Homo sapiens: one gene and its partner. The protein of the gene in region 2 interacts with the protein of the main gene of each other region in a pairwise test. Each region holds a gene or a part of one and is shown on either strand. Other genes may lie near its edges.

Region 1 (15,923 bases), on a different chromosome or scaffold from region 2:
TCTAGATTAGAAATAACTTTAAGTCAGGGACCAAGTTCACCTTACTCTAGCATCTAGCACAGCAGCTTGGTATAGGCAACAGTAACAGCTTACTAGTTCAATATTAGGAGCTCTCTGGAGTCAGCTTTGGTTAAAATCCTGGCTCCGTTACTTACTACCACAGTTATGGTTGAACTACTTGCTGACGCTAAGCCTCAGTTTCAGAATCTATAATATGGATTTATAGTACTCGCCTCATCCACTGTGATGCATAAAAGCTCTAACATAGGCAAAGCATTTAGCTCAATGGCTTACACACAGCATTCAACAAATGCCAAGTATTATAAGGTCCTCAACAAATTAATGTACAGGTGAATAGTGTATTGAACTGTGATTGCTATAAGGCATGAAAGAGCCAATCCTGGCCTTAAGAAACTCCCAGGCCTCATATCATGCAGCACTCATGGCTGATGTTTGCTACCATAGAAATAGCAAGGATGAACTCTGACCCAGAGTTTTCCCTGGGACTCTAGGCATGACTGACCTCAGAGATGACCTAATTGATACAAGACTCTTTGATAGTAACTGTCCCTCCTGCTGATGCTTCCAAATTCTTTGCCCTTTCTCTTCTTTCCTCGTCTTTAGCTTCCTTTTTTCTGAAGTAAATACTAACACTTTCCCATCACAAATTAACATGCACAAGCAAATCTCTGACTTAAGTATAATTTTTAAAAATGTGCATTTAAACTAAATGAGTTATTCACATAGCTCCCTCACCTTGAAAAATACAAGGGAGAAAGGAAGGAAGGAGTTTCAGCGGTTAATCCAAAAAACAAGTGTAATAGTTTTACAACTGTTGGAAATCCATGGAAAAAAAATTTAGGGCAAAAAGAAAGAAAATAGTTTCAAGATTGAGTGCCAAAGGTATCAAATTACAGACCTGCTTATTATAATAGTTATACTCAAAATGAGAGTGCAACAGAGAAGGAAGTGAGTTTCACCACCTAGTCAGACCATCTCCTTTTACCATCTGATTGAACGACGATGCAGCTGAGACCCTGACAAGTTAAATAATTTTAACCATCATTACTTTGATTCAAAGTGTGGCTCGTGGACCAGCAGCATGAGCTTCACCTGGGAGACTGTTAGAAATGCAGAATCCCAGGCACCCCCCCAGACCCACTGAATTAGAATCTGCATTTTAACAAGCTCCATCAGGGATTCACCTGCACACTGAAGTTTGAGAAAGCATTAATACTTGTAGCCTACAAACCAGTAAGTTCATAAATTAGATCATTTAAACTTCATGCTGTATTTTTCTGTAAACTGTATACTGATTTTTAGATTTGTTAAAAAAAAAATTTAAATCCTTCGGCTCTGAATAATCTACCTATGAGTTTTATACTCAGGTTAAACTTTAGGGAATGGCTTCTGGAAGCCCTGATTGAGCCACATACATAATATAACGATGCTATTGAGATGATGGCTCTGCTACAACTTTCTCACGTATAACACTGCAAGAATAACAGCGCCCAAACTCAGAGGGTTACTGAGAAAATTAAATTAAGACATGGAAAGTCTTTATAATAATGCTTGACACAGAGTAAGGCTGAAGTAAGTATTAACTACTAACTACCAGTATTATCATCTTGGATAGAGTGTAGTATCATAGGTTTGCAGCCACTACCCATCCATCCTCATCTACTCCTGTTGCAGTGATAAGTATTTGAGACTCCATTCAGGATTAGAAATATTATAGTCTGTGGCCTCAGAAGAGAGCCAGTAAAACCCTTCAACTGGCAAAAAAGATAACAGCCAACATTGCTGAATTATTTCATCCAATGAGGGCTGACCTTGTAAGCCACCATGGATAGACACAGAATTAGTAAGTTCTAATAAAATCTGTAAGTAAAATGTACAATGTTGAGTAATTTTCAATAAGTATCGCTCTGTGTAGGACTAAATATTGAATTCATAATTTTAGACTGTTTAAAAAACAAAGTATAAATTAAAGTTTTATTATTGAATATTCAGTTCAATGCACTGAAACAGCAAATTTTGCTTCAGGGGAGTTGGCAGGAGTATATGCAACAAAGACCCAAACACTCAGAACGAATACAGCATGGGAAGCTGCAGTGGTGGACAGAACAAGTTATCACTTGCATAACAGACCAACCATATTGTTGACCCACTTATCTCAAGCACAGATCCAGGTTGGTTAAAGAAAGCCGTGGTAGGCAAAGCACTTAATTCAAAATATGTAAAATGAAAATCAAAAATTAAAATCACATTTTAACTTGAGTTTCTTACCGACTAGATTTAAACAATGGGTTTCAAGGTATGCAGGAAAAGAGTCACACAGGTGAGGACTCAGGGTCCCATCAATCAGAGACTGTTGCTAGCACCCAGGAGAGTGCCCCACAGCTGGACAGAAAAATGTACAGGACAGGATGTGGAGGCCGCACAGAGAAAGACACCACAGAAGCCAACACAGCCTAGAGCATCACTTAGGAGGGCCTAAAAGGAGACCAAGGAAGAGAAATTTCTGCTTCTTGCACAATAGGATTCCCAAATGGCTTCCAGAGTTTCCTGGCCAGGGGATCCACAAGTTCATAGCTGCCAGCAGGCCTTTTCCCCATTTTCTCGCCCCACCTCTGAGATTGCAGAGAATTACAATCATTTTAAGTATTTTTCTCAAGGCAGGTCAACTGTAGTAATAAAACAAGTTTTCTGTCAACACAGTCCCCTCTTATATATGTAAATATGACTACTCTACATAAATAGTTAAAAATGGCTAACACTTTAATACTATCCTTATTTTTTATCCCTAAAGACAAACCACTCTATTATATCTGAAGGCAAGCAATCTGTCATGACGAAATAGGATATAAAATGGCACAAGTGATAGGCTAAATAATAGCCCCCTTCCACAGATATCCATCTCTTACTCCCTGGAACCTGAGAATACGTTATCCTACATTAAGATCTTTATAGATATAATTAAGGAAGGATGTTCAGATGAGGTGATTATCCTGAATATCCTGGTGGGTTCCATGTAATCAGAAGAGTCCTTCGAAGAGGGAGGCAAAAATTCAGAGAGAGGGTGAGGTGTTTACAGAGGGAAGTGGCAGGGCTTGGGGGAAGGCAACGTGATGCTGTCATAAGCTAAGAACTGAGGACTGTCTCTAGACGGGCAAAGGCAAGGGAACAGATTCTCCCCCAGAGCCTCCAGAAGGAACCAGCCCTGCTGACACCTTTACTTTAGGCCAATCAGGCTGATTCTGGATTTCTGTCCTCCAAAAATATAAGATAATAAGCTCATGTTGTTTTAAGCTTCTAAGTTTGTGGTAATTTATTATAGCAGCAACAAGAAACTAATACGTATTTTTGTATCTGGAAGTGAGGTATTGCTTGTAACAAATACATAAAAATGTGGAATTAGCCTTGGAATTGGTCAGTGGGTAGTAGATAACTTGGAGCACCATGATATTAAATGGCTATTTTGCCTTAAAGAGACTCTTGTAGAAATATGGATGTTATAGACTGTGACAGGCAAGGAAAAAGTGAGGAGCATGGTAGAGAAAACCTATACTGTCTGAGAATATCCAAATATTCATAAACATACTGGTGGTAGCAATACAGATGTCAAAAGCCCTGCTGGTGAGGGCTCGCAAGGAAATGAGGAACATGTTAGTGGAAGGTGGAGGAAAGGGGATCCTTGTTCATTCATAGCGGCAGAATTAGATGAATTGGAAGTGGAAAGCAAAACTTGTAAACAATGAACTTGGATATTTAGCTGAGGAAATTTCCAAGCAAACAGTGAAAATGCAGCCTGCTTTATTCTTGCAGGAGAAAACAGACAAATTAAGAGAACTGCTATGCAAAGAGGAGCAAGATTAGATAATTTGGGAAATTCTTAGCCTATCTATACTGAAAAAGACAAAAAGTTAGGGGTTTTGCTGAAAGAAAAGTGCTTTGGAGAGAAAGCCATGAGTGCAGCTATACAACCCTTTGTTAATGCCTCAGAAGTTTTGAAGGATCAGGGTATTTAGTCAAACAGAGGGCTCTTTGAAGAAATTAAGCATATGAGTCAAGGATCCCCTCAGGCGTCTCAGCAGAAGCCAGAAATAGCAATGAATTATTCAAGAAAGATCTGCAGAGGAGCCTCTTGTGTAATGGAATGAATCCCTATGATATAAATGGGAGAGCCACAAGGTTTTTGAGAATGATTTACCATCAGGAACACTGTCAGCTGGAATTGAGAGGGACAAAAGAACAAAAAGAGAAGGAAAGAAAGAAGGCTATTTGACTCCCCAAATTCTTCAGGCAAAAGCCAGGGTAATAAAACAACTCACCTGCATATACATGCCACCCTTAACAAAAAAGGAGGTAAGGCACAGTGGCTCATCATGCCTGTAACCCTGACACTGTGGGAGGCCAAGGCAGGCAGACTGCTTGAGCCCAGGAGTTGAAGAACAGCCTGGGCAACATGGCAAGACACCTTCTCTACTAAAAACACAAAAAATTGGCTGGGCGTGGTACCATGTGCTTGTAGTACCAGCTACTCGGGAGGCTGAGATGTAAGCCTGGGAGGTGGAGGTTGCAGTGAGCCGTGATGGCACCACTGGGCTCCAGCCTGATGAAAGAGCAAGACCTGGCCTCATAAATAAATAAAAGAACTTTAAAAAAGAAGGATATTTTAGAGGGTAGAAATACAGGTCAAATGGGTGAAGCCAAGGGCCACAGAGAATTATCCCCAGGCCTTGAAACCTAATGGCTGAATTTTGAAATAGCTTGGAACCAGTGATTCTTTTTCTTCTCCTTTCATTTTCTCCCTTTTTGAATGGAAATGTCTACAACTATTCTCCAATGCCTATCCTACTCATTGTATTTTGGGAGTAGGTACCTCGCTTCAGGTGCAAAAGTGGGGAGGAATTTTGCCCCAGGATGAATCATACCCAGAGTGTCACATAAACCAGCTTTAGATAATTAAATGATGAAATGGGACTTAGGGGCTGATGATATTTAGATGACATTTTGGATTTTGAGTTGATTTTGCAATGGGTTCAGAGTTTGTGGGACCTTGGGATAGGCTGAATGTATTTTACAAAAGACAGATGTGAATCTTTAGGGGTCAAAGGGAAGACTCTGGTAGACTGAAAAATGCCCCCAACCCTACCCAAAGATATCTACGTCCTAATCCCTGTAACCTAGAAATACATTACCTTATATTCAACAGGAAATTTACATTTCCTTTTGTATTAGAGAATTAATTTGTATTAAAGTATTAAAGGATTACTTTAAGAGAAGTATTTTGAGATGGGAAGATTATCCTGAATTACCCAGCAAGGCTTGATACAATCATAAGGATCCTTATAAGAAAGAAGCAAAGGTCAAAGAGAAGGCAATGTGACAAAAGATGAAGGAGAGAGAAAAGGCAACATGATGCATGGCTGTGATCCAAGGACTGAGGATGGCCTTTAAAAGCCGGAAAAGGTGACAGTTCACAAGGACAGAAAACCAAATACCGCATGTTCTCACTCATAGGTGGGAACTGAACCATGAGAACACCTGGACACAGGGCAGGGAACATCACACACCAGGGTCTGTCGTGGAGTGGGGGGAAGAGGGAGGGATAACATTAGGAGAAATACCTAATGTAAATGACGAGTTAATGGGTGCAGCAAACCAACATGGCACATGTATACATATGTAACAAACCTGCACGTTGTGCACATGTACCCTAGAACTTAAAGTATAATTAAAAAAAAAAAAAAGCCAGAAAAGTCAAGAAGGTGGATTCCCCCAAGAGCCTACAGAAGGAGTCAGCCCTGCTGACACCTTAACTTTAGCCCAGTTGGGTGGATTTTGGTTTTCTGACCTCTAGAACTGTAAAATAATAAATACATGTTGTTTTAAGCTACTAGATTTGTGGTAACTGGTTACCTAAGCAACAGGAAACTAACAAGAATAGATACTAATTATAAGTGAATACTTAGGTAATAGTATGATCTATAATCTATACTTCACAAAGTATTTTATGAACATATACTAAATATGAATGTACAAATCCTAATTGCCCCGTTAGAAGTTCTTAAGTTTGTTACACAAAGACAACTATAAAAATTATATATTAGTGCAGGTATGCATATATTGGCTTTCAAATTTGAAGGCAGAAAGGAGAAAAAAAATGACATTTAGTGCAAGAGATCAAGAGTCTATTTCTATGTGTCTCATAAAAAAAGATTGTTGTAAGTACACTTAAAATTGAATTTAAGCCACTTAATTCTGGTGGCAACTGTGTTTTTCATCTTTATTTGTCACACCATGGTGTTGAGCACACCATTCTACACGATGTTGGTGTTCTTTAAATGTTTGCTGATTAAATAACTGACAATATATTAAAAAGAGAATGAGAAAAAGTTACAGCCCTAGCCAGGTTTTATTGTAAATTAGATACAGCTTTATTTCAAATTAGTCTACAAGGAAATTGATGCTAAAATAAAACAGATAATTATTCAAGTAGAAGTTTTTAAAAGTCCTCATAAGGTAAAACCAAAAATATATGCATATATACATAGAAAGGTTCAAGATGCAGATGGGCACACACACAAAATCAGTGTGCTTCACTATAACAATAACAAAATACACTCATAAAAATCATACCTGTCCTTAAAGTTGATGATATGGTTTGGCTGTGTCCCCGCCCAAATCTCAACTTCAATTGTATCTCCCAGAATTCCCACATGTTGTGGGAGCAACTCAGGTGGAGGTAATGGAATCACAGGGGCCGGTCTTTCCTGTGCTATTCTCGTGATAGTGATTAAGTCTCACAAGATCTGATGGGTTTATCAGGGGTTTCTGATTTTGCTTCTTCATCATTTTCTCTTGCTGCTGCCATGTAAGAAGTGCCTTTCGCCCACCGCCATGATTCTGAGGCCTCCCCAGCCATGTGGAACTGTACGTCCAATTAAACCTCTTTTTCTTCCCAGTCTGGGGTATATCTTTATCAGCAGCATGAAAATGGACTAATACAGTTGAAAAGGTCTGTACACAAATATAAATAAGTATAACTCCAGAGAGAGATGAGCCCTTCTAGGGTAGACAGACACTGATGGCTGCTGTCGCCACTGGGGCGTGAGTAGGCAGAAGAGCTAGCCTGCTACTGGCAAAGACATTTTGTTGGAATAAGAAGAATGAGCCACACTTGCGTCAGCCAAGCATGGGCTGGCATGGCAGATTGGAAAATGGAGAAACAGAGCTAACCCTCACTGCCAGCCAATTCTCCTTCATAATATTTCTGCTTACAAACGCTGGTGGTGGAAGAAGCTGGTAAGTGGATGGAAAGCAGAAAGAGATCCTGTGATCTCACATGGTTAGATCCCAAACTCTGCTGCAGGGCTAGATCTCACCATCAAGAGGAAAGCAGATGTGAAATTCAACTCAACTCCTGATTAGAACAAAAAGATCTGGCCTAGTCACCTTAGCAGCCAGAAGGTAGAAAGCATAAGACTTTCTGGGGATAAATTTTATCTACCTCAGTCTTTGTCCATTCAAACACAATTAAAAAAAAAACAAAAAGACAAGTGAAGCAGCAGGAAATATGTAAGCCATGATTAGGAAGGGAAAACAACCACAACAAAAGAACACTAGATAATCAAATGGTTGGAATTAACAGACAAGTACTTTAAAATAACCATTATGAGGCCGGGCGCAGTGGTTCATACCTGTAATCCCAGCACTTCGGGAGGCCAAGATGGGCAGATCACCTGAGGTCAGGAGTTTGAGACCAGCCTGGCCAACATGGTGAAACCCTGTATCTACTAAAAATACAAAAGTTAGCCAGGCATGGCAGTGTATGCCTGTAATCCCAGCTACTCGGGAGGCTGAGGTGGGAGAATTGCTTGAATCCAGGAGGCAGAGGTTGCAGTGAGCTGAGATCATGCCATTGCACTCCAGCCTGGGGAACAGAGCAAGTCTCCGTCTCAAAATAAATAAATAAAATAAAATAAAATAAAATAAAATAACCATTATGAATATGTGAAAGAATTTAAGGAAGAATGGATGAAATGGATGAAAAAATCAAGCATTTCAGTAGATAAATGAAAACTCTAAAAAGGAAGCAAATGCAAATTCTAGAATTGATAAATACAGTTATCTGGGGAATGATTAATTCACTGGATGGGCTTAATGGTTACTTGGACAAAACAGGAAAAAAAAAAAGATGAGCAACCCAAAGAGAAGACAATAAAAATTATCAAAAATAAAGCACACAGGAAAAGAAAATCGTTAATTAAAAAAACCTTTCATCAGAGTTCTATGGCATAGGATCAAATGGTCTAACATATATGCAGCTTCATTCTGAAAAATGAATGGAGTAGAATTGTTGGAAAAGATACTAGATGAGGGCTGGGCGCAGTGGCTCACTCCTGTAATCCCAGCACTTCGGGAGGCCAAGGCGGGCGAATCACAAGGTCAGGAGTTTGAGACCAGCCTGGCCAACATGGTGAAACCCCGTCTCTACTAAAAATACACAAAATTAGCTGGGCGTAGTGGTGGGCGCCTGTAATCCCAGCTGCTCAGGAGGCTGAGGCAGGAGAATTGCTTGAACCCAGGAGGCGCAGGTTGCAGTGAGCCAAGATCGCGCACTCCAGCCCAGGCGACAGAGTGAGATTCTGTCTAAAAAAAAAAAAAAAAAAAAGTACAAAATTGGTTCTCTGCTTAGACTAATAATATTGACAAATATCTTTTCTCTTGCATAAAATTTCTGAAGGTTTATGAACCCCTTGTGTGTTTATGGACCTCTATTTAGGAACTTCTTTTTTTTTGAGACAGAGTTTCGCTATTTTTGCCCAGGCTGGAGTGCAATGGCACGATCTCAGCTGACTGCAACCTCTGCCTCCTGGGTTCAAGTGATTCTCCTGCCTCAGTCTCCCAAGTAGCTGGGACTACAGGTGCGTGCCACCATGCCCAGCTAATTTTTGTATTTTTAGTAGAGACAGGGTTTCACCATGTTGACTAGGCTGGTCTCGAACTCTTGACCTCAGGTGATCCACCCGTCTTGGCCTCCCAAAGTGCTGAGATTAAAGGCATGAGCCACCATGCCTGGCCAGAACTTCTTTACAAATTCACATTATTTAAAATTCATGCAGCCATAAAAAAGAATGAGTTCACGTCCTTTGCAGAAACATGGATGAAGCTGGAAACCATCATTCTCAGCAAACTAACAGAGAAACAGAAAACCAGACACCACATGTTCTCACTCATAAGTTGGAGTTGAACAATGAGAACACATGGACACAGGGAGGGGAACATCACACACCGGGGCCTGTTGCGGGGTGGCAGGCAAGGGGAGGCAGAGCATTAGGACAAATACCTAATGCATGTGGGGCTTAAAACCTAGATGACGGGTTGATAGGCACAGCAAACCACCATGGCACACGTATACCTATGCAACAAACCTGCACGTTCTGCACATGTATCCCAGAACTTAAAGTAAAATGAAAATAAAATAAAATAAATAAAATAAAATTCAGTGGCTTTCAAGTACATGATCCTGTCGATCCTTGACAGCCATTTTTATTATTATCTATTCAGTTCTTGCAAGTCATCTTACCTGAAACTTCACCTTCTGATTAATGTTGGATACACAGAACTGCTTCAGGAAGCGCTCGTCCTCACACCAGAAGAGACGGATATCAGGGATGTCGTAGAGGATCATGGCTAGCCTTTCTAATCCTAGGCCAAAAGCCCAGCCGATTCGGTCTTGAGCACCAGCTGTGATTAGGAAACAAAATAGTTGTTTTTAAAAAGTATCGAGATTGGATAGGTTCATACCACTCCCTGACAGTTATCAGTGACACTAATTAGATGCCTACCAGCGGGCAAAGGCACTGGGCAGCCGCTACAAAGACATCCATGAGGGTGCCCAATCTTCCACGCTTTCTCATCTCCATATTCCGGACTGCCCTCATGAACGGATTCTGAAGTCATACTGTCTGGAGTACTGTCTTTCATTTCTGATTACATTCTAGGCTTTCTGAAGCACTGGTTCCTGAACTGAGTTATGATTTTTCTGTAGTCTTTGCTTGCTCTGATTCAAACATTTAGCCCACTGAATATAGGTTACAGAGTGGAAAGAAAAGACGGTCTCTGTCCTTAAGTGTAGTAGATAATGAGATACATTCAAAACATGCCATAGTGGCCATAACATGTTTAGAACGAACTTACATGAAGAAAGTACATACGTCATGCCTTTAAGAACCTCAGTTTTATTAAACACCATAATGCTTATTCTTACCAACAGCCACTTCAGCATTGCAGAGAACACAAGCAGGCCCAGACGAGGGGTATAACTAGCACCACCTACTCCAAAGGTACAGTGTCCTGCTCAGATTGTGTCAGTGCCATAAATTAGAAGGGTTTACTTCACAAACTGAGGCAGTGTAAAAGGGAAGATAGAAACTGCAGAATGAAGGCAGGCAAAGGAGCAGTTCACACTGCAGGAAAGCTTATGAAATGAGCTCATGAAAGGATATAATTCCAACTGGACACTAACAGATGAGTAGGATCCTGTGGTAGGCTGAGATGGCCTCGGAGACTCCCACCCCGCATGCACATGCCTTGTGTAAACTCCTCCCGTTGAGTATGGGTGGGATCTAGGAACACAATGGGAATTTAAGCCTGTGACTGCTTTACTTTTTATCTAGGACTCCATCTTGGCCGATTGGAGAGAGATCCACCTCCTGGCTGTGAAGAGGCCACATGGCTCGGGCCCTTGAGAAGTCCTAAAGGAGCTCAGAGAGGCACCAGCAGCCAGGGAGAAAATGGGAACTTCACTTCTACAGTGGGACGGAACAAATTCTCCCAATAGCTGGAGTGAGCTGATGATAGCACCCCAGCTTCAGAGTACACAGCCCTGCCTCTGCCTTGATTTCAACCTGGTAAGATCCTGATCAGGGGACCCTATCAATCCATAGCCAGGCTCCTCATGCAAGGATATTATGATATAGTCAATTCGTGCTATGTTAGGCCACTAAGTGTAATTTGTTACCCAGAAAAAAAAAAAAAAGCAAACAAACAAACATAACTAATCCAGATTCAAAATGTAGAGAAAAGTGATAGGAAATTCCAGACTGAAGGAGTTTCTTCAGTAGCAATGGGACGGGATGCAGCACGGGAAGGCTGAGGAGTGGATTCTGGAGATACAGGCAGGACTCGTCTCAACGAGCCACAAGAAACATTTTGTTCTCATTTCTACCTTGCATTTAATGTTTTCCTAAAACATAAAAAACTTGGCCAGGAGCGGTGGCTCACGCCTGTAATCCCAGCACTTTGGCAGGACAAGGCTGGCAGATCACGAGGTCAGGAGTTCAAGACCAGCCTGGCCAACAGTGAAACCCCGTCTCTACCAAAAGTACAAAATTTAGCCAGGCATGGTGGCGTGTGCCTGTAATCCCAGCTACTCGGGAGGCTGAGGCAAGAAAACTGCTTGAACCTGGGAGGTGGAGGTTGCAGTAAGCTGAAATTGTGCCATGGCACTCCAGCTTGGTCCACAGAGTGAGAAAAAAAAAAAAAAACCACCACCAACAACAGAAAACCCTTATAATTGTTTCACAAATCCCCATTCGCTCTAGCTGAACCAGAACATTCATGGAGCTTCAGGATTAGGTGTGCAAAGTCCAGGAGGGAAAAGGCTTCATTATAAGTGAAACACCAGCACCTGCGGTTATCACTTGGCATCAAGGCAATCATCAAGACAAATGGGAACACAGGCTATAAGCTACAGACAGATGGAGAGGCACTGGTCATTAGCAAAGAACTTTTTAAACATTTCCAGCACATCACAGGCTGATAATTTGGTCACATATAAAATTATGCACATGACATTCCACTCAACAACAACATAATTGACATTTTTTTCAAGTGTACATGGGTCATCCACCACCACAGACCATATTCTGGAACACAAAATACATTTCAAATATTTAAAAGGATTGAAATTGTACAAAAAAAGTTCTATGTCCAAATGCAAATAAATCAGAAATCAACAGAAAAATATCTGAAAAATCTCCCAAATATTGGGAAATTAAACAACATACTTCTCTAAGTAACACATGAGCCAAAGAAGTCATCACAAGGGAAATCAGAAAATATATTTAAATGAATAAAAATTAAGATATGACACATTGAAACTAGAACTCGTAAATTATTGGGTGGGAATGATAAAACCACTTTGGTAGTTTCAAAAACAGTTTGGTAGTTTTTTACAATAAACCAATATTTCTCAACTGGGGGCCATCTTAACCACCAGGGGACATTTGGTAAGGTCTGAAGACATTTTTGGTGATCAAAACTGGGAGTGGGGAGCATCCTGACATCTAGTGGGTAGAGGCCAAAGATGTTGCTAAAGATCCCATAATGGACGGAATGGTTTCCCACCACAAAGAATTATCCAACCCAAAACATGAAACAGAGAAACCCTGAATTAAACAGACACTTAGCATATGACAGAGCAATTCCATTCCTAAGTATTTACCTAAGATATGGAAACATGTGCACTGGAAGTCCAATGCAGCTTAATTCAGAATAGCTCAACCCCAAAACACCCAAAATGTCCATCAACCAGTGAATGGAGAAATTGTGGTATATCCATATAGTAGAATTGTCAAAGGCATCTGAACCAGAGTGACTCCATCTTGAGTAGGAGCTGGGTAAAATAAGGATGAGACCTGCTGGGCTGCATTCCCAGGAGGTGAGGCATTCTGAGTCACAGGATGAGATAGGAGGTCAGCAGGGGTGGTATCACAAGATACAGGTCACAAAAACCCTGCTGAGAAAACAGGATATGGTAAAGAAGCAGGCCAAAACCCACCAAATCCAAGATGGCGACAAAAGTGGCCTGTGGTCCTCCTCATTGCTGGTTATATGCTAATTTTAATGCATCAGCATGCTAAAAGACATTCCCACCAGCACAATGACAGTTTACAAATGCCATGGTAATGTCTGGAAACTACCCTATATACTCTAAAAGGGGGAGGAACCCTCACTTCTGGGAATTGCCTGCCCCTTTCCTGGAAAACTCATGAATAATCCACCTCTTGTTTAGCATATAATCAAGAGATAACCCTAAGTATTATGCAGTGGAACAGCCCATGCCACTGCTCTGTCTATGGAGTAGCCATTCTTTTGTTTCTTTACTTTCTTAATAAACTTGCTTTCACTTTACACTGCGGACTTGCCCGGAATTCTTTTTCACACGAGATCCAAGAACACTCTCTTGGGGTGTGGATCAGGACCCTTTTCTGATAGCAGAATATGACCTAGTAATAAAAATAACTTATTCCTATACAGAACAAAATACATGAATCTCAAAAGAATTATGTTTAACAAAAAGAGATTAGTCACTAAAGATTATCTACAATATGAATTCAATTCTCATGACATTCTAGACAAGGCGAAACTATAGAGACAGATAACAGATTGGTAGGACATAAGAGAACTTTTCCAGGAGATGGAAATTTTCTCTATCTTGATTGTGGGGTGTTTACATGACTGTATATATCCTTCAAAACTCATGTAGCTATGTTTTAAAAGTATGAATTCTGTTGTGTGTAATACTACTTCAACAAACTGGCATTTCAAACATACTACACTTGAATGACACGGCAGTACCAAGTCAAATTGCTGTAAGTTTCTCAACGGTTACTCTCAGCCTCTGTGGTTATCTCCTTGTGAACTGGAAACTGATAGTTTGTGGATCAGCACCATTCTGAGCACCACACTTTGAGGTGTAATGATTTAAATGATATAGAACATGCCAATATAGCTTACATATATATTTAAACCCACAAAGTTAAGACGTTCCATAGCAAACTCTTACATATTCTAAGTGCTGATCCATAGACCCCCTAGGAATCTGCAGACTGCAAGCTGAGAATTATGACTGGGAAAGAAAATATAACCCCTAACAACAGCACCAAAGGCCCCTCACACCTGGTGCTGGGCCCACCACCTCAGATTATCCACAGTTCTCTAAACATCATATGTCCTTGTCATAATATAGCGGATCTTCCTAACACTTGCCCCTCTCCTAAAGTAACCTGTCATGGTCCTCTAAAACTTCATTGAAGTATTCTGACTGTGAGATTCTTCCTCTGACCCTGAAGCATTAAGTTTACCTTCATTTCCCCGTGACAAACACGCTGTACATATTTCTATTAGCAACTATCACATTTACAAGTTTCTCTCCCCATCTAAACCTGAGAGTTCTGAGAAAACAGTCCCTACACAATGTCATACACAGTATTGACTACTCCATAAACGAGTTTTAGACATATATCTGTGCTAATGAGAAGAACATGTGCTTCCCACACAGTGGATTCTTTGAGTCACTCTCACAGCACAAAGCTGAAGACACGACAGTGCGAATGAATGATGTCTCAGAGAAAAGCAAAAAAGGGCTGGTGTTCTGAAAAGCAAAGTTTACACGATGTTCACAATTAAGGGTTGGGAGGCTAAAGGCGTACGGAAGAAGAAAAAAAGCACTAAATGCTTCATTCATTGCTTGCTAGACACTGAATACCAGTTTCACAGATGAGAAATGGAAATGATCACAAAATGCTCAGAAGTAACAGCATTGAAGGGAATAAATACCATCTAAAAGGTAAATCTACATTCTATTATGTTTGTCAAAATAGAAATATCAGAAACAATAAGAAATAAAGGTATGAGTCCAAAATCGAATTATCATAAAGTTATGGAAAAACAGAGAAATTTCCCATTTGCTATCTTCCTCCCAGCTGAGCCAGGGAGCTGCCAAGCACAGCAGTCCTGAAGAGGCCGGACCCACGCATGCACTGCCAAGCGGGACAGGTGAAAAACATGGCTCAGGTAAAGGGCGAACGAACTTCACATAAGAGGGAGCCCCATGGTTGCCATGATGATGGCAGTCTAGGCTCCACTGTAATATGTCTCAGAGTAAAGGAGGACTTGCTTTTCCAGACTGATGTGGCACGTCTTCTGAATGGAGCAGGGTGAGACGGAGCAGAGGGAGCACCGCCAGCTGGAAATCACATCTGCAGAACACGGCGAGGGGAGGCTGGGCTGTCCTGTGTGACGAGGTAAGCTGCACACTGGGAGTAATGCTGATGATGAGAATTCAGTTTTTCGCATTTGAAATGGCCACAAGAGATAGTTGCTCCTGCCATTCCATTACTGCCATACAGAATGGCTTAACATCAATGAGTCTTAAAATTAAAGTCATTAATCACATTGGCTAATATCCAAGAATTCACTGAAAAGATAAAAACAGTTACCTTCACAAATACAACTTCCAATTGCTTTTCTCAGAAGGCTCACTGCAAAGCTACACTGCTAAAAGTCAGATGTTCTAGAGCTGGTTTATTAGAAATGTAGAAATGGTTGGCCGAGTGCGGTAGCTCACACCTGTAATCCTAGCACTTTGGGAGGCCAAGGCGGGCAGATCACGAGGTCAGGAGATTGAAACCATCCTGGCTAACATGGTGAAACCCCGTCTCTACTAAAAAAATATATACATATATATATATATACACAAAAAAAATTAGGTGGGCATGGTGGCGGGCACCTGTAGTCCCAGCTACTTGGGAGGCTGAGGTAGGAGAATGGCGTGAACCAGGGAGGCAGAGCTTGCAGTGAGCCGAGATCGTGCCACTGCACTCCAGTCTGGGCCACAGAGCGAGACTCCTGTCTCAAAAAAAAAAAAGAAATGTTCACTGGCCTAAGTGGATGATTGGCAGGACCACACTGAAAGGTTGATGGGGGAAAGGAAGGCTGATGGTTGTGCTGGGGATATGCGTGACTCCAGGGCCTCAGTCCCATGTGGCTGTCAGTAGGGACACCCTCTTCTAAAGAGAGGAGACTGGCTCTACCTGAGAGGACCCAGTGCTGAGGTGACTGAGGGG
Region 2 (15,819 bases):
TAACAATTCCTTATATATGTTTCCAAAATATTTTATGACTGTACAGCTATAGAAAGAAATCATATTATATTCTGTTCTGTGCCTTGGCTGTTCCGCTTAGTACTATTATCTGGGAGATGATGTCATGTAAACCCACATAGATCTACCTCATTCTTTTTTTTCTTTTTTTTGAGATGAAGTCTGACTCTGTTGCCCAGGCTGGAGTGCAGTGGGGCAATCTTGGCTCACTGCAACCTCTGCCTCCTGGGCTCTAGCAGTTCTCCTGCTTCAGCCTCCTGAGTAGCTGGGATTACAGGGGCACGCCACCACACCCGGCTAATTTTTTGTGTTTTAGCAGAGACAGGGTTTCACCATGTTGCCCAGGCTGGTCTCAAAATCCTGAGCTCAGGCAATCTACCTGCCTTGGCCTCCCAAAGTGTTGGGATTACAGGCGTGAGCTACCGCACCTGGCCTACCTCATTCTTTTTAACAGCTACATTCAGTTTCATTTTTGAATATGCTGTAATTTATTTAACCAGTCTCTTACTGAGAGAGAGACAGACAGAGGCCATATTCTACTTTTTGTAATGGTTAAACATTCTTGACCATATCTCTTGGGTATTTTTGTGAATAGTATAATAAGCCTCCATATACTCTTCAAATAGCTTCAAAAATCAACTCATGAACAGTCTTATATCATCTGTATCTCTATCCACTGCCCTAGTCTCACCACTTTTGAATTGATCTCAAAGCAACTCTCTGACATTATGTTATTTCATCTGTTAATATTACCATCCATATGTATCTCCAAGAGACGACTCTTTCAAAATATGGCCACAATACCATCATCACCTCAAAAATGAACAATTATTTCTTATTTAAAGTGTTTAAGAATATGACAGATATTTCCAAATTAATTTCCAAAATCATTGCACTAACTCCTTTCCCACCAAAAATGCTTCTTATTCCTTTCTCTTTTATCTCTTATTATGTTAGGAATCACTCGGTTAAGAACACTTAACTTTACCGTTTAAAAAAAGCTCATGTTACTTCAAAATACGCATGATCATAAAAATTCTTTCATTATGACATTTGTGTGTGTGTGTGCTGACGAAAAGAAGGAATAGAAAAGAATTACAAGAAAAGAAGAGAAAACAGAAGTAGATATTAGCCTCCCTCCCACTCTTGCTTCACAAAGTCACTTCCCAATTCTTTCATTTAACCACCTACATTTTTCAACAGCTATTGAAGGCAGAGGAGGGAGGATAAACCCAATACACACTTGTGGGTTTGGTCTACCATTTGTCCAGAGTTGGGGAGACAGACTTTAAATGGCTTTGCTTTTAGGCAAAAAAGAAGGAAAATGGAAGAGATAGAACAGGAAATACTAAAAAATGAGTAGTTATAATAACAGATTGAAATATGCATTTACTTCAATGTTTACTAAAACCATTCCTGAGTTTATGGACAATGTAGGCTTTCTTTTTTTTTTTTTTTTTTTTGAGACGGAGTCTCGCTCTGTCGCCCAGACTGGAGTGCAGTGGCGCGATCTCGGCTCACTGCAAGCTCCGCCTCCCGGGTTTAGGCTATTCTCCTGCGTCAGCCTCCGGAGTAGCTGGGACTATAGGAGCCTGCCACCACGCCCGGCTAATTTTTTGTATTTTAAGTAGAGACGGGGTTTCACCGTGTTAGCCAGAATGGTCTCGATATCCTGACCTCGTGATCCGCCCGCCTCGGCATCCCAAAGTGCTAGGATTACAGGAGTGAGCCACCGTGCCCTGCCTGGACAATGTAGGCTTTCAAGTATAGCAATTCCCTTTTATCCATGGAAGGATATGTTCGTGACCTCCAGTGGATGCCTGAAACCACAGATAGTACTGAACCCTATATATAGTATGTTTTTACCTCTACATACATAACTATGATGAAGTTTAATTTATAAATTAGGCACAGTAAGAGGTTAATAACAATAATAATAAAATAGAACAATTATAATATACTGTAGTAAAAGTTACATAAATGTGGTCTCTCTCTCTGAAATTATCTTATTGTACTGTACTCACCCTTCTGATAACCGAGGTGGCTACCAAGTGACTAACAGACAAGTGGTCTATAATACAACATGGATACACTGGTCAAAAGGATGAATCACAACCTGGGCAGGACTGACAGAGACAATGGAAGATTTCACCGTGCTACTCAGAATGGTGCAGAATTTAAAATTTATGAATTGTTTATTTTGGGAATTTCCCATTTAATAGTTTTGGACCACTGTTGACCTCAGGTGGCTGAAATTGTAAAAAGCAAAACCTCAGATAAGGGGACTACTATATGTATTTTCTGTTTGACTTTGGCAAAAGTACATAAATTATTTGTTTCCCTGTCATAGGGACATTTTGATGTATTAGTACAAATGAATCCAAGCCAGATATATTTTAAACATGGAGTTTTAAAATGAGAGAGAAGAGCATAGCAAAATATAATATTATTATCTTGATCATTTTTTGGTATATTTTTCTTTCTTCCCAACTTCTTCCCTTGGCAAAATCTGTTCCATGTATCCCTATATAGTAGAATTGTTTTCTATCTTTACATACCTTTTCTATCTGTGAGAAGTCATTTATAAGTTTGTCAAGATTCACACTGCTAATCTTTTTCATACATCCTTCACTGCTTTGGTCCATGCCTGAAAGTAGTAAACAGTAGATAGTGTTAAATAAATAAATAAGATCTAAAGCACCACAATAGTGTTCATAGCTCAAATACTAACATTTCTATATTCAACTCATAGGGCACCTACTTGGGCTCCATTGCACTGCGAGAATTTTTGTTATAACCAATATTAACAGTGGTCAAATGCATTGTCTTTTCCACTCCTTACCACCCACACCCCAGTTGACTTATTTATATTTGTTTCTTTACTGCATTAAAACCTAATGCAATATTAAATCTGAGGCATGACTTTTAACTGTAATTATTCTTAATTAAAGATGTTAAAAATACTTGTTTAACTATCATGTCACAGATGTTTTCTGCTGTTATGCTTATTTCTTATATTTTGTTTGGTAAACTGGTAAATAAAAGATGCATGGAAGTTAATGTGCTCAAAGCAATCTCTCTGCATTTCTATTGTCTTGTAATTTTGTATAAGGGATTAACCTTTGGGGATAGCCAGCTAACTGCTGAAGAATAAGAGTTTCAGTTTTAGTCCTATGAAATCAATCATAAGAACTTCTTCAGAATCCCAGAATGTAAATGCTGGCTATTTTGCAAAAGTCAATTTATCCATTCTGACTGGATGAGTTTACATCTTCAGATGTAATGTAAACAAGTATGAGACACTTGTCTTTAGATTTTTCTATAGCAAAGAAGAAAGGGAAAATACAAGTTTGAAATTCAGGGATGTTAGGTTGAGGAAAAAACATGAACCAATGTATGGTGTGTGAAAGCGGTAACTAGTCCAAAGTAAAATGTAAGTAAAATTCCTGATGTAGTTACTCAAAGCAATTTGGGGGCATATTATTGTTTAAAAGGAAGTTAACCAAAACAGATATTGCTTGACAATATGTTATTTCATCAAGATATCTCATTTTCTTCTTTTGAAATATTTTGCATTAGCAATTATTAATGGTTTTTAAATCTCAGATTTTTGGCTGTATATTTTGTTTCTTGAATTATTATCTCGAATTATTATCTTATGTATGACATATGCAAGCACAACTACATATAAAATCCCTTAAATAGTTAAAACTTGATCCTTACAGCAGAAAAATATTTGTTAATAGCCTCCCATGATACAGTAAAATTCCTTTTGGAGTAAAATTAAAAATAATTGCTGTTTGATAGTACTGTTATTCTTTAATAGTGCTACATAGTAATCTGAAGTAGTTAATGGAAACTCCCTCCACCCCCACCTTTTTTTTTTGGTACCTAACCTTTTAAATAAAAAAGGTTTTACTAGGGTTTTGTCTCAGAATCTGGCTCTTGAAATAAATGCATTTAAATTTGAGCTTGATTTTCTCTCAACTCCTTCCCCCAAAGAAGACCCTGTTATTTCCTTGTAAAACCATCACTAATATTCCATTTGCTATCGTTGCATGATATCCCTTTTGCCATAATGGCAGAGCCAGGCAATTCATTTCTAGGTATCTTCATTGCCTGCTCTTCTGATTTCTTAGGTCAAGATCCTTTCAGTGAATATGGTCTTGCCCTGTGAAATTCGGTGTCAAGCTGGTGATTCAGTGCTTGTCAAATTCCTTAGTGAGCCGCAGAGACTGATTTGTGACCTTCAAGGCTCAGCTTCAACCGTCCCCACAGGCAAGTGAAAGTCCCATTTCCTTCTTTGTCTTCTTGCCTGCTGGCTTCAACCATCCCCACAGGAGCGTGACAGTTCCGTTTCCTTTTGGGTCCTCCTGTCTGCTGGCTTGAGTCCCGGGGCTCGTCCTCTCCCCTACCCCACACAGTTGGTCCTTCGCCGCTCGCCTGCCCCACGCTCTGGTCCCTCCTCTTTCCTCCTCACCTCCCCTCAAGAATTCACTCTCAGTCCTGAAGCCTGGGTCCCCTGGCTCCCTCTCCGTCATCCTAGTGTCCTTAGGGACCTAGCAGAAATAAAGGATGGGGGCCGAGGACCCGCGGATGTGAGAGAAGTGCCTGAGACAAAAACCTGTATGGACCCAGAGCACTGTAAGGAGATAAGAAGAAAAGCATCTCTATGGAAAAAGCGGGAGTTTCGAATCGCTTTCTAGCGTCCTTAGCGGCCTAGCAAAAATAAAGGATGGGGGCCGAGGACCCGCGGATGTGAGAGAGGTGTCTGAAAAGAAAAGCCTGTAATGGACCCAGAGCACTGTAATGAAATATGAAGAAAGGAATCTCTATGGAGAAAGCGGGAATTTCGAACCGTCAATAGAATTTGGAGTGTACCTGCTGTTGCTCCTAGTTCCCCACAGTCTCCCTTTCCGCTGCCTCTGGGGCCTGGTACACCCCTGAATGCTGTCCCCTCCTCCGGAAGCCGAATCCCCCAACAATGGGCCCGCCTTTCTCTGGGCCCGCCCTGTGCGCTATGCTGGAGCTCCTACCACCAGCAGTTCTTACCAACTTGGCCCAGCTCCGCTCAGCATCTGCGGCTGCTTAGGTATTTTCATGTGGTTTCCAGAACATGAATCAACACCGGATCAATAATTGTTTCCCCAACCAAAGAATAAATCACATTGGGTGTTCTGAATTGTGAGTCAGCTCCATTGAATAAATAATTATCCATATCTATTTTTGTAACTTATAAAATTGCCTTTTAAAATTCCAGAGCCAGTTAATAGATATGGTTTCCCATCTACAGAGTTATATCTTGGTAGCTTAATGATTAAGGGCGTGGGCTCTTGCGTGGATTCAAACCCCAACTCTTCTCTTTTTCCGTGGGTGATAGTGGGTAAGTTCTTAATTTCATGCACCTAAGCATCTTCATCTGTATAAGAGATTAATTATAATGCCTGCCTCTGCCGGGCGCTGTGGCTCACGCCTGTAATCCCAGCACTTTGGGAGGCCGAGGGGGGTGGATCACCTGAGGTCAGGAGTTGGAGACCAGCCTGGCCAACATGGTGAAACCCCGTCTCTACTAAAAATACAAAAATTAGCCAGGCGTGGTGGCGGGCTCCTGTAATCTTACCTACTTGGGAGGCTGAGGCAGGAGAATTGCTGGAACCCGGGAGGCGGAGGTTGCAGTGAGCGGAGATCGCACCATTGCATTCCAGCCGAGACCCGCAGCAGCAAGACTCAGTCAAAAAAAAAAAAAAGAAGCCTGCCTCTTAGGACGGTTGTGATGATTAAATGAAGTGATGCATTTATAAGGTGCTTAATGGAGATCCTTGCTTAAAGTAAGTGTTCAGAAATGTTAATTATTAGAATTTTTGAATGTTGTTCAGTAATAGTTTGAAAGCGAATCCACTGCCAACTTTGCTCATCTGCTTTTTTTTTTTTTTCTGAGTGGGAGATGGGAGGTTTATTTTTGTTAATGTGATTTTTCGATAGACTCCAAAATTTGGCAAGTGAAAAAATATAAACAGTAATATGATAACCCATACTTTACTAGTTGAAAGGTAGTGTGGCATAATGGCAAGAAAATTAGGTTAAAGTGGAAAATGGGGGTTGTAGTCTTCACTCTGCTGCTCAAATAAGCTTTCCCTAACATTAGTAGCAACACATAGAAATATTGAAAATGACCTGCTGAATTGCGGGTTCTACCCAATTAGCAAATATAAAATGTTCCATGTAACTCATGTCATAATAACTTTTGAAACAAGCCCATTTTAAGACCCTAAATGCTAAAATGCTACCTTCTCCATGAGTCATTCACTGATCGTATCAATCAGTTGTGATCTACCTTTCCTTACTCTATGGAACATGCTAGCTTTCTGTGGCATTTGTTAAGACTGAATTGATGTATTACCTCTTTTGCTGTATTTATTATTGGCTCCTTGGGGGAAGAAACTCTATTTTCTTTATATATATATATATATATATATATATACACACACACACACACACACACACGCGCATGTATGTATGTATGTATGTATGTATGTATTAAGTTCCACCTAGGCCCATCCTAGGCAAATTTCAGGAGTCCTTTGAAAATATGTGGTGACTGGAATGTGTAAGGTGGAGAGGGAGCTCCCTAGATCCCCTGCCTCATCTGTACTTCCAAATCTTCTGGATGTTCCAACATTTGAAATACAGAAGCTTTGACTATCTAATGATTTTGGGATGTAGAGACTAAGAAAGTTGGAATATTATATATATATATATGTATATATGCAAACACACATATATGTATATATATATACACATATATATGTATATGTATATATTTCTCCATAGAGCCTACCATAGAGAAAATAGAAATGAACCAACACATCAGGAATAAGTCAGAAAAGTTTAGCTTAATTTTTCTAGTTTAGAATGGGTTGCAAGTTTATCTTCCAGTTTATAGATGTTAGCATTTTTTTCAAAGAATTCTAGTAGGTTTAGAGTGCATCTTTCAATGAGAAACTAAATGAACTTGTCATGATTTCATCTTTAAAAAGTGAATGTGTTTCACAGTTGTATTCACAGTCTTATTCTTCAGATACCATCCAACTGAGAAACAGAATTCATCAAATATTTGCTCAGAAAATATTCATTTTTGCTTACTACTTGGATGTGGGATCATTCATACACCACATGTCAGCAACATGCAATTTACTCATGTAGCAAACTTGCACATGTACCCCCCAAGCCCAAAATAAAAGTTGGGAAAAAAGAGAATATTTATTTTCTGATAGATCAAGGATTTATTTAATATATATTTTAAGACTGCCTGGAAAACCAAAATAGAGAAACAAACTACATTATTTTGTCATACTAACAAAGAAAGTAACACTGGAATTCATTAAAAATACCCTGATTTGGAAGAGAAATGCATATGTACCTGGGCAGCTGAAAAAAAATCAGAAGCTACCGGTTTATGTACATAAAGATCTTAAAATGAGTGATACATTGATTTTTTTAGGTTGAAAACAGCTTCACTCATTAATTCATTCTAAAATATTTAAGTACTTACAAAACATCAGCTGCTGCAAGTCTAGGCACTAAGGAGAGCAAAGACAAATAAGAGACTCTCCTTTTGCCTTGGAGCTTACAGTCTCAAAGGAGAGACTAGCAGAGGATTGAAATCTAGTGTATGTTATTGGCAATATTGCTCTGGCATTGGAATCTCACTTGATTATTTTAGTTACTATCACCGGCATATTATAACAACAAAATATTATGGTGTTGCTCCCATATCACAGCAAATGTTTATAAGTGGTTTGGCTAATCTATGGAGTCCTTTGTTCCAGCCCTATTATTTAACTCTCTCGATATTCTTACCTCTGTTTAGGCCATGCTTTTTGTCTTTGAATCAAATTCACCAACTGCTGAAATTTCAGCTTGCTCTCATTTCCATGAATATTTATTTAAAAATGCTACATACATATTTCACCTATACAAGGTGAAATATAAATTAGAAATTGAAGAGCAGTAGAGAAATAAAACAGAAATACTCTGGCCTGTAGGTCAACAAAGTTTTTATATTTCTGCTACAAATTTGGCTTTGAATTTACTGATGGTTGGAATAAAAAAGGATACAGGCTTAACTACTTAGTTTATTTATTTATTTTTGTAAAAGAGGAGAAAACATACAAGTTTCTCAGGAGGAACCATGTTCCCTAACTCTAACTTCTTAATTTTTCACATTAAGATTCATATAGGAGGCACTGGATAATTTAATAGGCAATTTCCTCAATATTAGCCTGAGAGTAAAGGTGGAAATGAGCTTTTTAAGACACTTTCGAAGTATCTCTATGAAAAAGGCTAGATTGGATCAGAAATGGCAATCATAATGAATCATGATCTAGGCCCCTGCTTTTCAAAGTGTGGTCTCTGCACCAGCAACATGGGCATCGCCTGCGGGCTTGTAAAAATGCAGTCTCAGACTCTATCCCATAACTGCTAAATCAAAGTCTGCATTTTAACAACATTACCAGGTGATTCATGTGCATATAAATGTTTGAGAAGCATTGATCTTCTGTGTAGAAAGCTTTTAGAGCTTTTTATTTCTTTCCTTTGCCTTTTTAAGATTATCAGTAATTACACATTTATTTATTCAAGAAATACTTGAGCACCAACTATGTCCTGAGGTCTATGAGAAAACTAGGAATAAACAAAACAGATTGGCCCCTGACCTTAGAGGACTTATAGTTTAAAAGGGAAATAGGTAATACATTGAGTAAATTACCTATACATAAAATTGTAATAAGTGCGAAGAAACACAAATCTATGATATCGATTTTAAAAGTGAGTGGGAGGTGCTTCAGTTACAGTGATTGAGGACAGTCGCTGAGTAGATAAGATAAAAGTGAGAACTGAAGGGCTAACATTTTAATGTACCCTTCAGGTCTCACTTTTATTTTATTTACTCAGCGACTGTCCTCCATCAAAATGTTAGCTGTGGGTGGCTGGGCATGATGGCTCACGCCTGTAATCCCAGCACTTTGGGAGGCCGAAGTGGGTGGATCACTTGAGGTCAGAAGTTTGAGACCAGCCTGGCCAACATGGCGAAACCCCATCTCTTCTAAAAATATAAAAAAAAAAAAATTAGCCGGGCATGGTGGCAGGCACCTTTAATCCCAGCTATTAGGGAGGCTGAGGCAGGAGAATCCCTTGAACCCCGGAGGTGGAGACTGCAGTAAGCCGAGATCACGCTACTGCACTCCACAGTGAGTGACAGAGTGAGACTCTGTCTCAAAAAAAAAAATGTTAGCTGTGGGCAACATTTAAATGCTAGGGTTACTTTTAACCTCTACTTGATCTCTTGATGCACTATCTCCCTCCTCTGGTTTCTCTACGTAATTCTCATATTTCAGTATCTGTTTCTGGACCATATTGTCTTGGCTTCAACTGCAACTTTGGCTTCGAGTTCTGTAGATCTCTAGCTCTCAGCATTTCCTGCAGTAATTAGGTAAAATACATTCCATGCATCAGGTTTATGACCCAATGGAACACTGTTGGTTAGACTAATCCCCATCCTTTTCCAAATGGACAGGGGAATTTGAACATGATTCTAAAATAAAGTCTAAACCGTGCAGTACTTGGATTACTTTTCCTGAAACAATCCTACTTAGATATATAAATATTCCATCTTTTAATGAGCTTCATTAAGAGTAGAATCAATGTTGCTATCTGGGCAGAGTTTGCATTTTTGGATGAGGACAGGAAGTGAAGCTATTCTACTTAATTTATTGACATAAATATACTTTAGATAGTGAGTCTATGGTAAGGGTAGTATTTTTGTGATAATAAAATAGTCTAACCAGCTTTCAATGGCCTTGTATTCAACAACTACTTGGAGGTGGCTATGTGGTATTCTCAGAAGAAGTCAGACTTTTTCTCAAAATTTAGTCTTAAGTCTGTTCCAGTACATAAACAAGTGATCCATGATGGCTTCAATGTCATAATAGAGCATAAGTTTGACAATTTGGGCCTAAAATATTCCATTGCTCCCAGAGAACATCAACTTTTTCATAACCTACCTTCTTAGTGATAACATTGTTGGTGGGGGCAGGTTAATGAGCCTTTCAACATTCCTAGCTTCAGATCCTGGCTCTGCTCCTACTAGTTGTGTGGTCCTCAGCAAGTCAATTTATCTCTCTGCCCTTCCATTTCATCTTTATAAAATGAGAACAAACCTCTGAAGATTAGGATAAATGTGTCAAACCTGGGTTGGCTTTGAGTAGGCCAGAAATAAATATTTGTTGAATAAAAGAAAGAATGAACCAATGAACAATGTTAGTTCCTATATCAGCAAGCTTTTGTGATACAATAGACCATTCTAAAATGCAGTGCTTTGAAACAGCCATTTATTTAGCTCATGCTATTTAAGGTCAGCAGTTTAAACTGGGATCAGGTAGGCAAGTTTTCTCGTCTTGGCTGGGTTCTTAATGCATTGGCGGTTAGCCATCGTTCAGGTAAGTGGCTTAGCTAGTTTTACTCATCTGGGCCGGGCTCTCAGTCTCTGGAGACTTAGTTGGTATCACTCTTGTCACTTTGCCACTTGGTCTCTCATTCTCTAGCAGGCTCAGCCAGGCTTGTTCTTAAGGAGTTTAATCATCCTGAGAAAGAAATCACAGACATGCAAGGCCCTCTAGAGCAGTGATGCCCAACCTTTTTGGTACCAGGGACTGGTTTCGTGGAAGACAAATTTTCCACAGACTGGGATGGGGGGATTGTTTTAGAATGATTCAAACACAATACATTTATTGTAGACTTTATTTATTTTATTATTACATTGTAATATATAATGAATAAGTATACAACTCACCATAATGTAGAATCATTATGAGCTTATTTTCCTGCAACTAGACGGTCCCATCTGGGGGTAATAGGAGACAGTGACATATCATCAGGCATTAGATTCTCATAAGGACTGTGCAACCTAGATTCCTTGCATGCACAGTTCACAATAGGGTTTGCACTCCTGTGAGAATCTAATGCCACCACTAATCTGACAGGAGGTAGAGCTTAGGCGATAATGCAAGCAATGAGGAGTGGCTGTAAATACAGATGAAACCTCGCTTCCTCACCTGCTGCTCACCTCCCGCGGTGCAGCCCAGTTCCTAATGGGCCACTGACCAGTACCAGTCTGTAGTGTGGGGGTTGGGAACCCCTGCTCTAGAGGACCAGGTTCAGCACTGGCCTACAGCAACTTCCACACATTCTATTGGTAAAAGCAGGGTACAAGGCCACGCAGACTCAAGTAGCGAAGAAACAGACTCCATCTATTGATGGCAGGAGCTGCAAAGGGGGTAAATACAGGAAGGTAATAATTATAGCCACTTTGCAAAAAGTTTACCAATAATTACCCTTACATAAACCTGTCAAAATAACAGTTCCATTATGCAGGCCTAAGTAAAGGGGGAAAAATAGTTTGTTGTATTAGTTAAGAGAGGACATCTGCCAAATGATTTTTGTGTAAGAAAAATTGAAATATGCTCATTCATTCTAATAGTAGTTAGCAAAATAAAGTAACTTTTGAGATAATGCTTTTTAAAAATCATCTACATATAGGAGTGTACATATCTTCCTATGCAGTTGTCAATATTTGAGCAATATCAAAAAAGAAATGGAGAAACTGTAGAGGCAGATGACTCTTAAAACACAGTGAACACAATAGCGAAGACTTGGAACCAAGGTAAATGCCCATCAATGATAGACTGGTTAAAGAAAATGTGGCACATATACACCATGGAATACTATGCAGTCATAAAAAAGGATGAGTTCACATCCTTTGCAGGGACATAGATGAAGCTGGAAACCATCATTCTCGGCAAACTAACACAAGAACAGAAAACCAAACACCGCATGTTCTCACTCATAAGTGGGAGTTGAACAATGTGAACACATGGACACAGGGAGGGGAACATCACACACTGGGGCCTGTTGGGGGGTCGGGGGGCTAATGGAGGGTTAGCATTAGGAGAAATATCTAATGTAGATGATGGTTGATGGGTGCAGCAAACCACCATGGCACGTGTATAACTATGTAACGAACCTGCACATTTTTCACATGTACCCCAGAACTTATAGTAATAAAAAAAAAGAAAAAGAAAACCACAGCGAACAGATCCAATTTGGATGTGCTTCACCCTCTGACTCCTACAAAAAAAGTAATTCATAGCCCTGCCATTAGTGTCTCCAGAAAAGATTATAGTAAAAACCAAACCAAAACAAGCAAAAAATGAACAAATTGAAGCTAGATATATGAATAGGCAGTATAAGGCACAGCAGAGTGTCTATAAACGTTGAGGATATCATATCTTCTTGAAAAGACACTTAATGAGGTCAGAAAGGATCAAGATTTTGTTTGATGAGCCCAAACCCTCAGTGAGAGGCCTACTCTTTGCCATTTTACTTTCACTATTCAGTTAATTCTACCTCAGGCAACTGCTTTCTCACCACTATAACCACATCTTTCTACTGTACACAGGTTGTGCCCACTAGTCTTAAGGAATCTTTATCTCTCTCTCTCTGGGATCCATTCCTATGTTATGAAAATGAAATTATGGCAAATAAATGCAGTGTGACTCACATAAAAGAAAGTATGACATAGGAAACCACTACACCAATGCTGCAGACCTTGGAAGTGTCTGTGAGTCTTCTTCATCATTCTCACAGAAGCCACCATCTGCCTCCTTGTTCTCTTCTGGTCAAGTGTTCTTCTCCAACATGAAATGAAAGATAATTTCAAAACTGTGTTCTTTTCAAGTGGTGATCTGATAGTGTTCCTATGAAAAATACATCCAGAATGCTTAACAACTAAATTAAAAATCTGGGATGAATTCATTTGATATAAAATAAGTAAATTCGATTAATTTTTAAGTGAAAATTCTTAGTTTGACTTCATAATACCTAGAAATATTTAAACAGTATAGGGTATCCTAAACAAAATAACAAAGATTAAAAGGAAATTACAAAACACAAAGCAAATGCTTGCAAAATGTCCAGTCTTCCAGATTAATCTATGGATTTAGGGCTAAACCAACAAAAATTGTTTAACTAGTGTGTGTGTGTGTGTGTGTGTGTTTGCATGTGTGCGTGTTGCTTTTAAAACCAATGAAAACTTATTGAGGTAGATATTGTTATTTTTAGATATTTTAAATAACATCTCTTAGCATATAAAAATGGTTTGCTGTTTCAAATGGCTCCACCTGGTCATGTAATAGTGGTTTGCGGTTTAAGGAGTAGTGGCCTGTTTAATGCAATTAAACTGTTTAATTCTAGAGGGTTCAAGAAAGTTGAAATAATATGTTCATAAGCATTACATTTAAACCACCTATATTCACAAAACAGTATTTTGGGAAAATGTGATTCTATCAAACTTCAATAACAGCAAATGTAGCATTAATTAAATAACTGAAATTAAACAAAAAAGAAATAAAGTTATTTTTAAGGGAGAAAACACAGTCAAATGTCTTGTAGATGTTCAGAGTCGGCAGCTGTGAAAGCTGTCAGCCTGTATGTGACACCAGATCCCTGAGTCCTCACAATGCAATCCTCCTTCTCTGAGGACCTGAGAGTCTAGCGGATCTCCTGATCCTCTCTGGCCTCTGCCTGGGACTGTATGTGGAACAGCAATGACAAAAGGGGCCACCTGGAAAAAACTGAAACTTAAACTCTACTTCTACCAAATTTTGACTGTTGTGACCATTTTCTCTTCGTGGCTCTTTGAATATCTTGTTAGTTCACAAAGCTCCAACGATCTTTCTAGAGTTTTTTCCTCATGGCAGAGAATACTCCTTTGATAGAAGGAGCTTATTCTTACCCCAGGCTTTCAGCCATCTCCCTGTAGGAGCTGTCTTCAGATGTATGTGGCCATGTTTTTATATATTTTGGGAAATTTTTTGGTTTCTCTCTTGTAAGTGGTAAATTCCTTCCTCCATTAATTTTCTGCAAAGTTGCATTACGTGTTCTTGATGCAGTTCAAGCACTATCTGAAGTTTGAGCTGAGGCTTTTGAATTTCATTTTTAAGCTGTGCATTTCAGACTATAAATGTTTGCCCAGTTTGGAAACTTTCCATTTGAACTCTAAGTGCTTCTTTTATTTTCTTCACAGAAACTTTAAAAATATATTTTGTTTTTCTTCTTCAAGCCTTATTAAAGGAAACATTTAAGTTAACACTATCAATGAGGTTTTTTTTCAAGTCGACTTTTGATTGATAAAGATTATCAATAGTGGCTTCCATTTTCTGATTCTAAAGAGAGCTAGTAATCTAATCTAATTAGAGACCATAAGTGGTTTTCAGTTACTTACAACCTGTTCCATTTGCATGTTAGAGTTGTTAAACATTTTTATTTGTTCCTTTGGTTCCTGCACTGCTATTTTCACCTTCTGGCTTCTTGGGAAAGCAGTTTTAGGTTTTCCTAAAGATGAACTTTTCATCCACACAACTCATTTTCCTCTAAAATGGACTCCATCCTTCTGAGATTCTTTTAAGAGGATTTTTTTTGACAGTCACTTAGGATTTGAGATATTTTGATGCATCATTGAATGACAATGTCTGTTTTTGAAGGAGAGCCATCATCACCGAATGAAATGAAACTTCAGGGAGCTCTATTTTATGTTATTTGTTGAGAAGGTCTAGTGTATTCTTGATCAAAGATGTTCATATTGTTACTAATATAAGTGCTGCCAAATTCAGAGTTGTAACCTCAGAAGACATGCCTCCACTGGAAGTAACTTCAGGGCTTCTTGGGCTTGAATAATCAATCTAATCTCACTGAGTTTACAATATTCTTCAACTAAGGCAGAAAATCCTTCAGTTATTTCTTTTTCCCTTTTTAAAGTATGTTGACTTTTTACTACTAAAAATGATCATAGTAGCAGAGATCAGAATCTCCCAGGTAATTGTGTATATAGTTTAAAGAGAATTAAAGATATAAATAGTAATTTATTAATTTATATCATTTATAACTTTTACCAAACAATTCATCCACTGACTTCATATGGCATTGAATGCTTCTCAATTTGTTTAGTGTCACTGTCTCCTCAGCTACATAATGTGCTTTATAAAAACCTTATTCCCATGTCTTGAGTGATATTGCTGCAGAAAGGTGATTTCCAGTTCCATTTAAGTCATTATAGTCATCTTGAAAGAGTTTATGTTAGGATTTTTAAAGAAAGAATCTAGGTCAAACAGAAAGAAATGACAGCCTGTTCCCTTGACTGAAGGCTCTGGGCAGAAAATCAGCTGCTGAGCTAGGAAGTGGTAATATAAAATGAGCACTAACAAAATACCTTATAACCAATTTTAGGGGTAGATGGGATTAAAATGTTTTATATCTGAGCCTGGATGGTAAAAAGAAGTTGACAAAGAAAATCCAATATCAAACCTTTTGTTATTGGAGGCTAACTGTGGGTAGAAGTGCTGGGCCCCAAACCCTGTGACCAGAGCTGGCCAGGCCACATAATTTGTGGAGTCCTGTGCAAAATAAAAATGTGAGACCCCTATTCAATTATTAAGAATTTCATGATGGAACAGCAGAACATACAATCAACTGTGGGCCCTTGCAGATGGCCTGAATATTTGTGTTCTCCTCCAAATTCATATGTTGAAACCTAATCCTCAATTTAATGGGATTAGGAGGCGGAGCATTTAGGAGGGGATTAGGTTATGAGGGTTCTTCTTCATGAATGGGATTAGTGCTCTTATAAGGGGCTGAAAAGACCAAAGTTCTCCCCTTTGACTATGTGAGGACACAACTTAAAGGCGCCAT

What was found.
Region 1: the proteins of CCDC152 (region 2) and FARS2 interact in binary tests that used the Homo sapiens proteins (3 or more experiments, as listed by UniProt).

Annotation. Positions count from the first base shown.
Region 1 is NC_000006.12:5,539,013-5,554,935, reverse strand, and holds part of FARS2 (phenylalanine--tRNA ligase, mitochondrial), read right to left. Parts: intron 9,757-15,923; coding exon 9,596-9,756; intron 1-9,595. UniProt on the Homo sapiens protein: Is responsible for the charging of tRNA(Phe) with phenylalanine in mitochondrial translation.
Region 2 is NC_000005.10:42,745,966-42,761,784, reverse strand, and holds the start of CCDC152 (coiled-coil domain-containing protein 152), read right to left. Parts: upstream 4,968-15,819; 5' UTR 4,900-4,967; exon of another isoform or gene 4,560-4,899; coding exon of another isoform or gene 4,499-4,559; intron 2,666-4,498; coding exon of another isoform or gene 2,664-2,665; coding exon 2,577-2,663; intron 1-2,576.